Regions from separate parts of the Homo sapiens genome. Here all the other regions are linked to region 2. The links come from fine-mapping of genetic effects on gene expression. A gene starts in region 2. Each other region holds a variant in brackets. All regions are shown on one strand. Distances are between the middles of the regions. Region 1 overlaps SCYL1 (SCY1 like pseudokinase 1). Region 2 holds the start of LTBP3 (latent transforming growth factor beta binding protein 3). Region 3 holds the start of KCNK7 (potassium two pore domain channel subfamily K member 7).

The links. PIP is the estimated chance that this variant, and not a neighbour inherited with it, causes the effect.
Region 1: its variant is fine-mapped to the expression of LTBP3 in whole blood (TOPMed, PIP 0.98).
Region 3: its variant is fine-mapped to the expression of LTBP3 in whole blood (TOPMed, PIP above 0.99).

What each region holds. Positions count from the first base shown.
Region 1 is chr11:65,532,019-65,534,768 of GRCh38, forward strand. SCYL1 (SCY1 like pseudokinase 1) reads left to right here. Exons shown (of 18, transcript NM_020680.4): 9 at 674-787. Among named protein-coding and RNA genes, the nearest start is that of SCYL1, 8.3 kb to the left of the region's middle. The variant A/G (reference allele first, on the strand shown) is at 1,130.
Region 2 is chr11:65,557,012-65,559,732 of GRCh38, forward strand. It overlaps LTBP3 (latent transforming growth factor beta binding protein 3), which reads right to left and starts at 1,348. Exons shown (of 28, transcript NM_001130144.3): 1 at 618-1,348. The coding sequence starts at 948. RefSeq lists silencers at 1,177-1,416, 1,467-1,626.
Region 3 is chr11:65,593,735-65,596,484 of GRCh38, forward strand. It overlaps KCNK7 (potassium two pore domain channel subfamily K member 7), which reads right to left and starts at 2,066. Exons shown (of 3, transcript NM_033347.2): 1 at 1,720-2,066; 2 at 1-140. The coding sequence starts at 2,038. The variant G/A (reference allele first, on the strand shown) is at 1,217.

The sequences.
Region 1 (2,750 bases), 25 kb before region 2:
TACCAGTGGCTCCCAGTGCCATTCCCTCTGTGACCACCAAACACACCAGTCCTCCTCGTGGCACTGTGGGCAGGTGGGGAGGAGCAGGGAAGGGGTGATACCCTCATTTATAGAAGAGGCTCAGGCTGGGCGCAGTGGCTCATGCCTGTAATCCCAGCACTTTGGGAGGGCCGAGGCAGGCAGATCACCTGAGGTCAGGAGTTTAAGACCAGCCTGGCCAACTTGGCGAAACCCCGTCTCTACTAAAAATACAAAAATTAGCCAGGTGCGGTGGTGGGTGCCTGTAATCCCAGCTGCTCAGGAGGCTGAGGCAGGAGAATTGCTTGAACCTGGGAGGCAGAGGTTTCAGTGAGCTGAGATTGCGCCACTGCACTCCAGCCTCGGTGACAGAGCAAGACTCTGTCTCAGAAAAAAAAAAAAAAAAAAAATAGAAGAGGCTCTGAGAGGGTGGCCAGATGAGCCGGACTATGAGCCAGGCCTTCCTAGCGCCCTCCTGGCCTTTCCTCACTCCTCCACCTGGGCCTGAGGCCAAACACCTGGGTGGTGGCTCAGGAGGTTGACCTGGCTGGCCAGTGCCTGCTGGGTGGAAAAGCTAAGCCAGGAGCGGTTCCATGGCTATGGGGATAGAGTGGGAAGGGCTGACCATGTTGACGCATCCCAACCTGGGCCACAGATGGAGCAGTTCATCCAGTACCTTGACGAGCCAACAGTCAACACCCAGATCTTCCCCCACGTCGTACATGGCTTCCTGGACACCAACCCTGCCATCCGGGAGCAGACGGTCAAGGTGGGTGTGGCCAGGCCCAGAGTGGCTACCCCTGGTTTTCCAAGGCTTGGAGGGGCTCACCCTAGACACAGAGGCCTTGGCTTTGGCCCATGGGTCCAAGCAGACACTGTCCTTGCTGTGTGGGTTCAGGCCGTGGGTGCAGCTCGGCAGCTGGCGGGGGAGCACGTCCTCCATTCAGCAGACAACGAGCATCTGCCTGTTCCTGGCCCAAGCCCCATGCTGGGAGGCAGCATGCATGAGGTGCCCAGCCCCCTGCACTCATGGAGCTTCCTTTCCAGGGCACAGAGGGTGGGCTTGCCAGACAATACAACAGAATTAGAAAATATGTATTGTTGGCTGGTC[A/G]CGGTGGCTCACGCCCATAATCCCTGCACTTTGGGAGGCTGAGGCAAGCGGATCACCTGAGGTCAGGAGTTCGAGACCAGCCTGACCAACATGGCGAAGCCCTGTCTCTACTAAAAAGTACAAAACCATCTGGGGATGGTGGCGCATGCCTGTAATCCCAGCTACTCGGGAGGCTGAGGCAGGAGACTCAATTGAACCTGGGAGGCAGAGGTTGCAGTGAGCCGAGATCATGCCGTTGCACTCCAGCATGGGCAACAAGAGGGAAACTCTGTTTCAAAAAAAGAAAGAAAATATGCATTGTTGGAAAGTGTGGGGAGAAGAGTTTGTGGTTTTAAAAACAGTGGTCAGGGGCTGGGCGCAGTGGCTTACGCCTGTGATCCCAGCACTTTGGTAGGCCGAGGTGGGAGGATCGCTTGAGCCCAGGAGTTGGAGACCAGCCTGGTCATCATGGCCAAACCCCATCTCTACAAAAAAATACAAAAGTTAGGCGCGTATGGTGATGCACGCCTATAGTCCCAGCTACTCGGGAGGCTGAGGCAGGTAGGTAGCTTGAGCCCAGGAGGTTGAGGCTGCATTGAGCTGTGATCGTGACACTGCATTCCAGCCTGGGCAACAGAGTGAGACCTCATCTCAAAATTTAAGAAATTATTTTAGGCCGGGCCTGGTGGCCCATGCCTGTAATCCCAGCACTTTGGGAGGCCGAGGCGGGTGGATCACCTGAGGCGATGGGAGTTTGAGACCAGCCTGGCCAACATGGTAAAACATGGTAAAACCCCATCTCTACTAAAAATACAAAAAATGGCTGGGCCCGGTTGCTCACACCTGTAATCCCAGACTTTGGGAGGCTGAGGTGGGCGGATCACAAGGGCAGGAGATCAAGACCATCCTGGCTAACATGGTGAAACCCCGTCTCTACTAAAAGTACAAAAACAATCTAGCCGGGCATGGTGGTGGGCGCCTGTGGTCCCAGCTACTTGGGAGGCTGAGGCAGGAGAATGGTGTGAACCTCGGAGATGGAGCTTGCAGTGAGCCGATATCGCGCCACTGCACTCCAGCCTGGGCAACAGAGCAAGACTCCGTCTCAAAAAAATAAAATAAAATAAAAATTAAAAAAATTAGCCAGGCATGGTGGTGGGCGCCTGTAATCCTAGCCACTCAGGAGGCTGAGGCAGGAGAATTGCTTGAACCCAGGAGGCAGAGGTTGCAGTGAGTAGAGATCACACCACTGCACTCCAGCCTGGGTGACAGAGTGAGACTCTATCTCAGAAACAAAAAAGATACGGAGACGAGAGTGGCTCTGAGGCTTGTGGCCTGAGCAACTGGAAGGTTAGGAGTTGCTATTTACTGAGATGACACAAGCATGTTGGGCCCCATCTTGGCTGTTTCTGTTAGGCAGCTGGATGGAGATGTCGAGTTGGCCACTGGTTATGCATGTGTGAAATTTAGGGAAGTCTGGGCTAGGGGTATGTGCCTGGGGGTTGTCAGCTCACAAGATGGCATTGAAAGCCATGAAATGGCTGAGATCACCTAGGGCAAGAGTGTTAGATAGAAAAGAGCCCTCTAGATTGGCTCCGGGTGTGTGAACGTTAGAGTCTCAGCAAAAGGAGCAGCCAGCCAGGTC
Region 2 (2,721 bases):
TAGGAGCTTATGGGGAGGCATTGGAAAAGGAGAGGCTGAGAACCCCGAACTAGTCCCTACCTTCAGGCCTGCACCCTACTTTTAGGCCTCAACACCCTCCCTACTCAGACCTTGCCAGTAGCCGGCTCCCATCCCCAGCCCTGACCTTAGCTCCTCCTCCCAGGGAATGCAGGTGTCTACTCTGGCAGGCCCTACTTTAGACATTTTGTAAAGACTTTTCTTGTTTCTTCCAGCAAGTCTGCTTCTTGCGGGAATATTTAGCCCTTCTCTGAGGCTTCCTGTCCCCGGCTCACATTCCTCAAAAACCCTGTGTGCTCCTGCTCAGAACTCAGCACCTTCTGGGAAGCCAGTGTCATCCAGGACCTCTGCATTTCCCCACCCCTTAGGCCCCAACCCTAACGCAAAGCTTCAAAGTCCAGGCCTCCATGCAGCCCTCCAACTCTGGCCCCCAGAGTTCCAGCCTCCCAAGTTCCCTGAGGCCCCTGGTCCCCCAGGCCCTCGGATCTCTGCCCTTTATACCCTCAGCCCCCAGTCTCTAAGGCCAAGACCCCACTAGCTCTCCCACCGGGCCTGGTGCCTGTCCTTCCCCTGCCCCCAGCCGTGCCCCCGGCCCTCACCCACGCGGAAGCCGGAGCCCGTGAGCGTGTCTGTGCTGTGGCCGTTCTCTCCGATGAGCGTCATGTTGGAGCCCTGCTGACAACTGTCCCGACACTGGCCCTTGAGACAGGTCCGCTTGCAGATCACCGGCGCAAAGACCACCTTGAAGCGCTCGCGGGCCAGCGCCCCGCCCCCGCCTGCGCCCCGCTCGCCGGCCGGCCCCCCCTCGACCCTGCCGCCCAGGCCCAGCAGCAGCAGCAGCAGCAGCAGCAGCAGCGCCAGCAGCCCCGCCGCCCCCGCCCCGCGCATCTCAGGGGCCAGGCCGCCAGCAGCCCCTCGGGGCCCGGGCATCCGGGGCCGCAGGACCCGGGGGAGGGGGGGCGCGCCCGGGCGGGGCGAGGGGCCCGCGCCCGAAGGGAGTAGAGGGCCGGGAGCCCCGGGAGAGGGTAGGGGGCAGCGAGGGAGGGCAGCGGGGGAAGCGGGCGGGAGGGGACCGCGGGGGCCCGGCGGGAGGCGCGGAGATGCAGACTGGACAGCGGGGAGCGCAGAAACTTCCCAGCCCCAGGACGAAGCCCAGACCAGGCCCCGAACTCAGGCAGGAGCGAGGAGGCCGGAGCAAGTTGAGGCGGAGAGGAGGAGCGAGGGAGAGGAAGGCCGGGCGGCCGGCCCGCTCCGCGCCTCCCCCTGGCCGGGCTCCTCTCCCGCGGCCGCGGGGAGGCAGGGAGCGCGCGGGGAGGGCTCAGGGAGAAGTGAGCAGTTGTTTTCCCTGGCTGGAGCGCGGCGCGGCGGCGGCGAGGGGGGCTGGGACGCTGGCCCCGGGCCAGGGACACAGTTTTTTTTTTTTTGTTGTTTAAAGCGTCGCCTCTGCCGCCTGGAGAAGCGAGGGTGTGCAGGCTGGCGGAGGCTGGGGGGTGGCGCGGGGACAGTCCCCACCCCAGATGCCCGCCCCCGCCGGAACCCGCGGCCGCGCTGGGCCCTTTCCAGAGGGCCCTCACCTGGGACCGTCTGGCCGGCCGCGGATTCCTCCGGGCGGGGCGGGGCGGGGAGGCCTGCGTAGAGCGAGATACCGAGGCTGAGGGAGAGAGGTGGCCCTGCCGGGTCACACTGACGATGGAGGCCGGGTGGAGCCGGAGCCCAGGCCTTCCAGCTCTTTCCCAGCCTCCCTTGCAAACGTGGGGGTCTCAGGGCCCCAAAGTAACTTCTCGTTAGTGCTGGTCCAATCCCCTCTGAGGAAAGGGCTAAAGGGTGGGGACAGCCTTTGGCCAGGGCTCACGGAGGTCCCAGGAGGAAGTCTGTGGGGTCCAGAAGAGGAGCAGAAAGAACAAAGCTAGAACCCAGCTTCCCTGCCAGCCCCCTCGGAATGGCTTCCTGGTGCCCACCCTGCCACCTCCCCCCTTTCCTTTCGTCTGGCCGTGCTGGCGGGGCTGGCTCTGGGCCTCAGACACTCTGGAATCGCCAAGGTCTGAGCTCAGGGCCTGGCCCCCTTCCCAGGCTAACAGCCGGGAGGACGGGGGCGCTGTCCGAGGGCCCAGGGGCTGGAGAGGGGCACAGCAGAGCCCCAGGGCAGGGGCTGGCAGCGGCTGGGGGTGGGGGTCTTCAGGTTGGCCATGGCTGGAGAGGAGCATAGTTCCAGACCAGGCTTGTCCGCTGGTCTGGAAGGAAAGGCTGCAACGTGCGGGGGCCCAGGCCTTACTGTGGGGCCTGCCAGGAGACCCCAGGGTTCCGTCTCTGACTCACAGAACTCAGCAGGAGGTGGGGACGGCTAGGGCACATCCAGGAAAAGCGCTGCCAAGTCAGGGCGGCACCAGACCCTCTCCCGGACAGCACCCGGGGCAGCAGTCTAATTGGGGAGAGGAGGTTCAGGGACTCACTTTCAGGCACACCTGTCCAAGGAACTCTGTTTTTACTTTGAGCGTAAGTTGATGTGGGTAGCTTTAGGGGGACGCTTAGTAAGTCCCCCTTACTAAGCGGTGCAGGGCTGGGAGGGACAATCACATGTCCCCAGGGATCCCTGCTGCCGGAATCCAGGATGGGGTGTGAGGGGCAAGCCCCTGCTTCTTGGGGCCCTGGTCCACACGGAGGCAGGGAATAATGCTAGGTGCCGACCACCTGCCAGGCACAGGG
Region 3 (2,750 bases), 37 kb after region 2:
GGCACGTGGGCGGCTGAGCACAGGCAGCAGGCAATGGCGCAGGGTGGCCACGAGAGCTAAGGAGGCTGGCAGCCCCAGGGCTGCATAGACCATGCAGAAGGCCTTTCCGCCTGGCGATAGTGGGGCCATGTGGCCATAACCTGGAGAAGAGAGAGTCAGTGGACAGTGAGAGCTCTGAGTGCCATGTCTGCTGGGGTCCCTGCCTACCCCAATACTGCCTTCCGCAGAAGGCTGCCCTCTGGTGGCCTTGAACTGGCCAGGCCCAGGTTCTAGCTGGCTCTGCTCCTCTTCGTCAGGGGATCCCTTACCCTCTCTAGGCCATTCTTTTCTTTTTTGGAAAATGAAAGGATGAAAGAAGACAGTTCCTCAGGCCTTTTGTAGCTGGGACAATTCTGAGAACTGCGCTGCCCTTAACAGATACTCCCGATTCCACAGCTGGTGGAATATCATCCACTCTTTCCCCAAATGTGTGTCATGTCCTGTGTGCCAGGCTTTGTACTGGGATCTGAATCAGCCCAGGCCCTGCCCCTTCTGGTGGGGGAGTCGGGCAGGCAAATCATGAAGGGCTGCAAAGAGGCAGCATGGGCGAGAGAGGGCATGTGCCAGGCGGGGAGGGGTGGGAGTGCGGGGTGTGCTGGGAGAACAGGATCAGCTAATACAGAGCTGCAAACGCACATGCCTACCGGAGCCAGATGGGAGACAAACAGGAGTGGTGGGGACAGGGGTACACTGGAAAGTGTGAGCTGTATCCAAAGGGCAGGCCCCATTCTGCTCCAGTCAGGATGTTGCCTTGCAGGGATTCTGGCTCAGTGTGAGTGGGTTTCCTGATTTTCCAAAAGAAGTTGGAAATATGAGCTGGGCACAGTGGCTCACACCTGTAATCCCAACACTTTGGGAGGCTGAGGCAGGTGGATCACTTGAGGTCAGGAGTTTGAGAACAGCCTGGCCAACATGGCAAAACCCCGTCTCTACTAAAAACACAAAAATTAGCCGGGCATGGTGGTGCATGCCTGTAGTCCCAGCTACTCAGGAGGCTGAGGCAGGAGAATTGCTAGAACCCGGGAGGTGGAGGTTGCAGTGAGCCAAGATCGCACCACCGCACCCCAGCCTGGGTGACAGGGTCAGACACCGTTTCAAAAAAAAAAAAAGTTGGAAATACAAATTCCAATTCAAAAAATACTGAGACACTTTGTGGGGCAAAAAATACGAAAACCCA[G/A]GGCTGTGGGTCTCATTGCTGCTTTTCCCTGGGCCTGTGCCCACGCGATTTCTCTGCAGGACTCCCTCATCCCTGTCTGTGCCCTCCTGATCCACAAGCATCTCATGCCGACTTCCTCCCCTATCTTCCCTCACTCCCCCACCCGAGGCCATGGTCCTGATCTGTCCTTCCCAGGTTCATTCTATTTGCTTCCATCCAAGAATCCATCCCACTGTATTGTATCCCCTATCTGGCCACAGGCTGTGGCATCTGGGCAGCTCTCCTGGGTCTCAAAGGGTGCCTGGGGTGGGACTGGGGAGGCCACACCCTTCCTGGCAGTTGAAGTGGAGGCACCAGTTGGGGTGTGTTGGTGGGGAGCCCCAGCTGTGATGTCAGGCCTCACAGGGCCTGGGCTCCATCTGGCTCTTTGGGGCTGAAGGAAGGGCTGCATGAACCCCAAAGCCCCCAGGGAGCCATGGCCTCTTGGAGCCGCACCCCCCGACTTGGCTGCCTGGCTCTCTTACCTGTGGTGGTGAGGATGCTGGCAGCGAAGAGCAGGGCTGAGGGAAGGTCCCAGGTCCTGCCCTCTGAGCTGTTGCCCAGGGTGGAGACCCCATGGGCCTGGGTGGCCAGGGCAGTGCCCAGCAGCTCTTCCAGAGCTCCGGGTGGCAGGCAGGCCCTATGCTCTGCCTGGAAGGCTGCCAGCTCTGCCCTGAGCTCAGCCTGAAGCCTGCATGCAGGAGGCCCCTCCAGGGCCTGGAACACCACAGCCCCAAGCCCCAGGGCCAGCAAGTGGGCCACAACCAGGAGCCCGTATCGGGACCAGGGCCTTAGACCCCCCATGGCAGGCCGCTGGGGTGCTGTGGGAACTGGCGGCTCCACCTCAGGCACCTGGGAGGGGCTGGGCAGGGCGGGGCCAGGAGGAGGTGCTGTGTGGGTGGCTGGGACCCGGCTGGGATGGCTGGGGTGGCTGGGGTGTGAACAGGAGGGAGGTGAGCTGCATCACCCTTCCCAGGTCCTGGAGGCAAGACATTTGCCCATTTCACAGCAGCTGGGATGGTGGGGATGGGTGGAGGAAGGCGGCTGCGGTGAGGGGAGGAGGCGGAGGAAGCTGAAGCCTAGAGAGGACCTCACACTTATTCAAGGTCCTGCTCACTCAGGCACCCATACCACATTCATTCATTCATTCATTCATTCAAGTGCTTAGGGAAGAGGACAGGCACAGGTCCTTTCCTTCCTGGTGTTTACACAAGAAACCTCTTAGCAAAGAAACATGGCAACCTCACATTGTCATGAGTTCCATGAAGGAAACACCCTGGGTGATGGGAGAGCTCTGCGGGGAGCGGGGGGGTTATCTCACTGGGAAAGCTCTGCTAAGGAGGTGATATTTCAGCTGGGGAGTAAGAGGCCAGTGAAGGTAGGAATGAGCTTGGGGTGTGAGAGGAACAGAGGGCTGGCTGTGGCAGGGGAGAGTTGGGGGTGAAGGGGGGATAAGGACACAGGCCCTTGAGGATAAATGTGGTCCAGGGAGACCTACGCTGGGCTACTGTAGGCG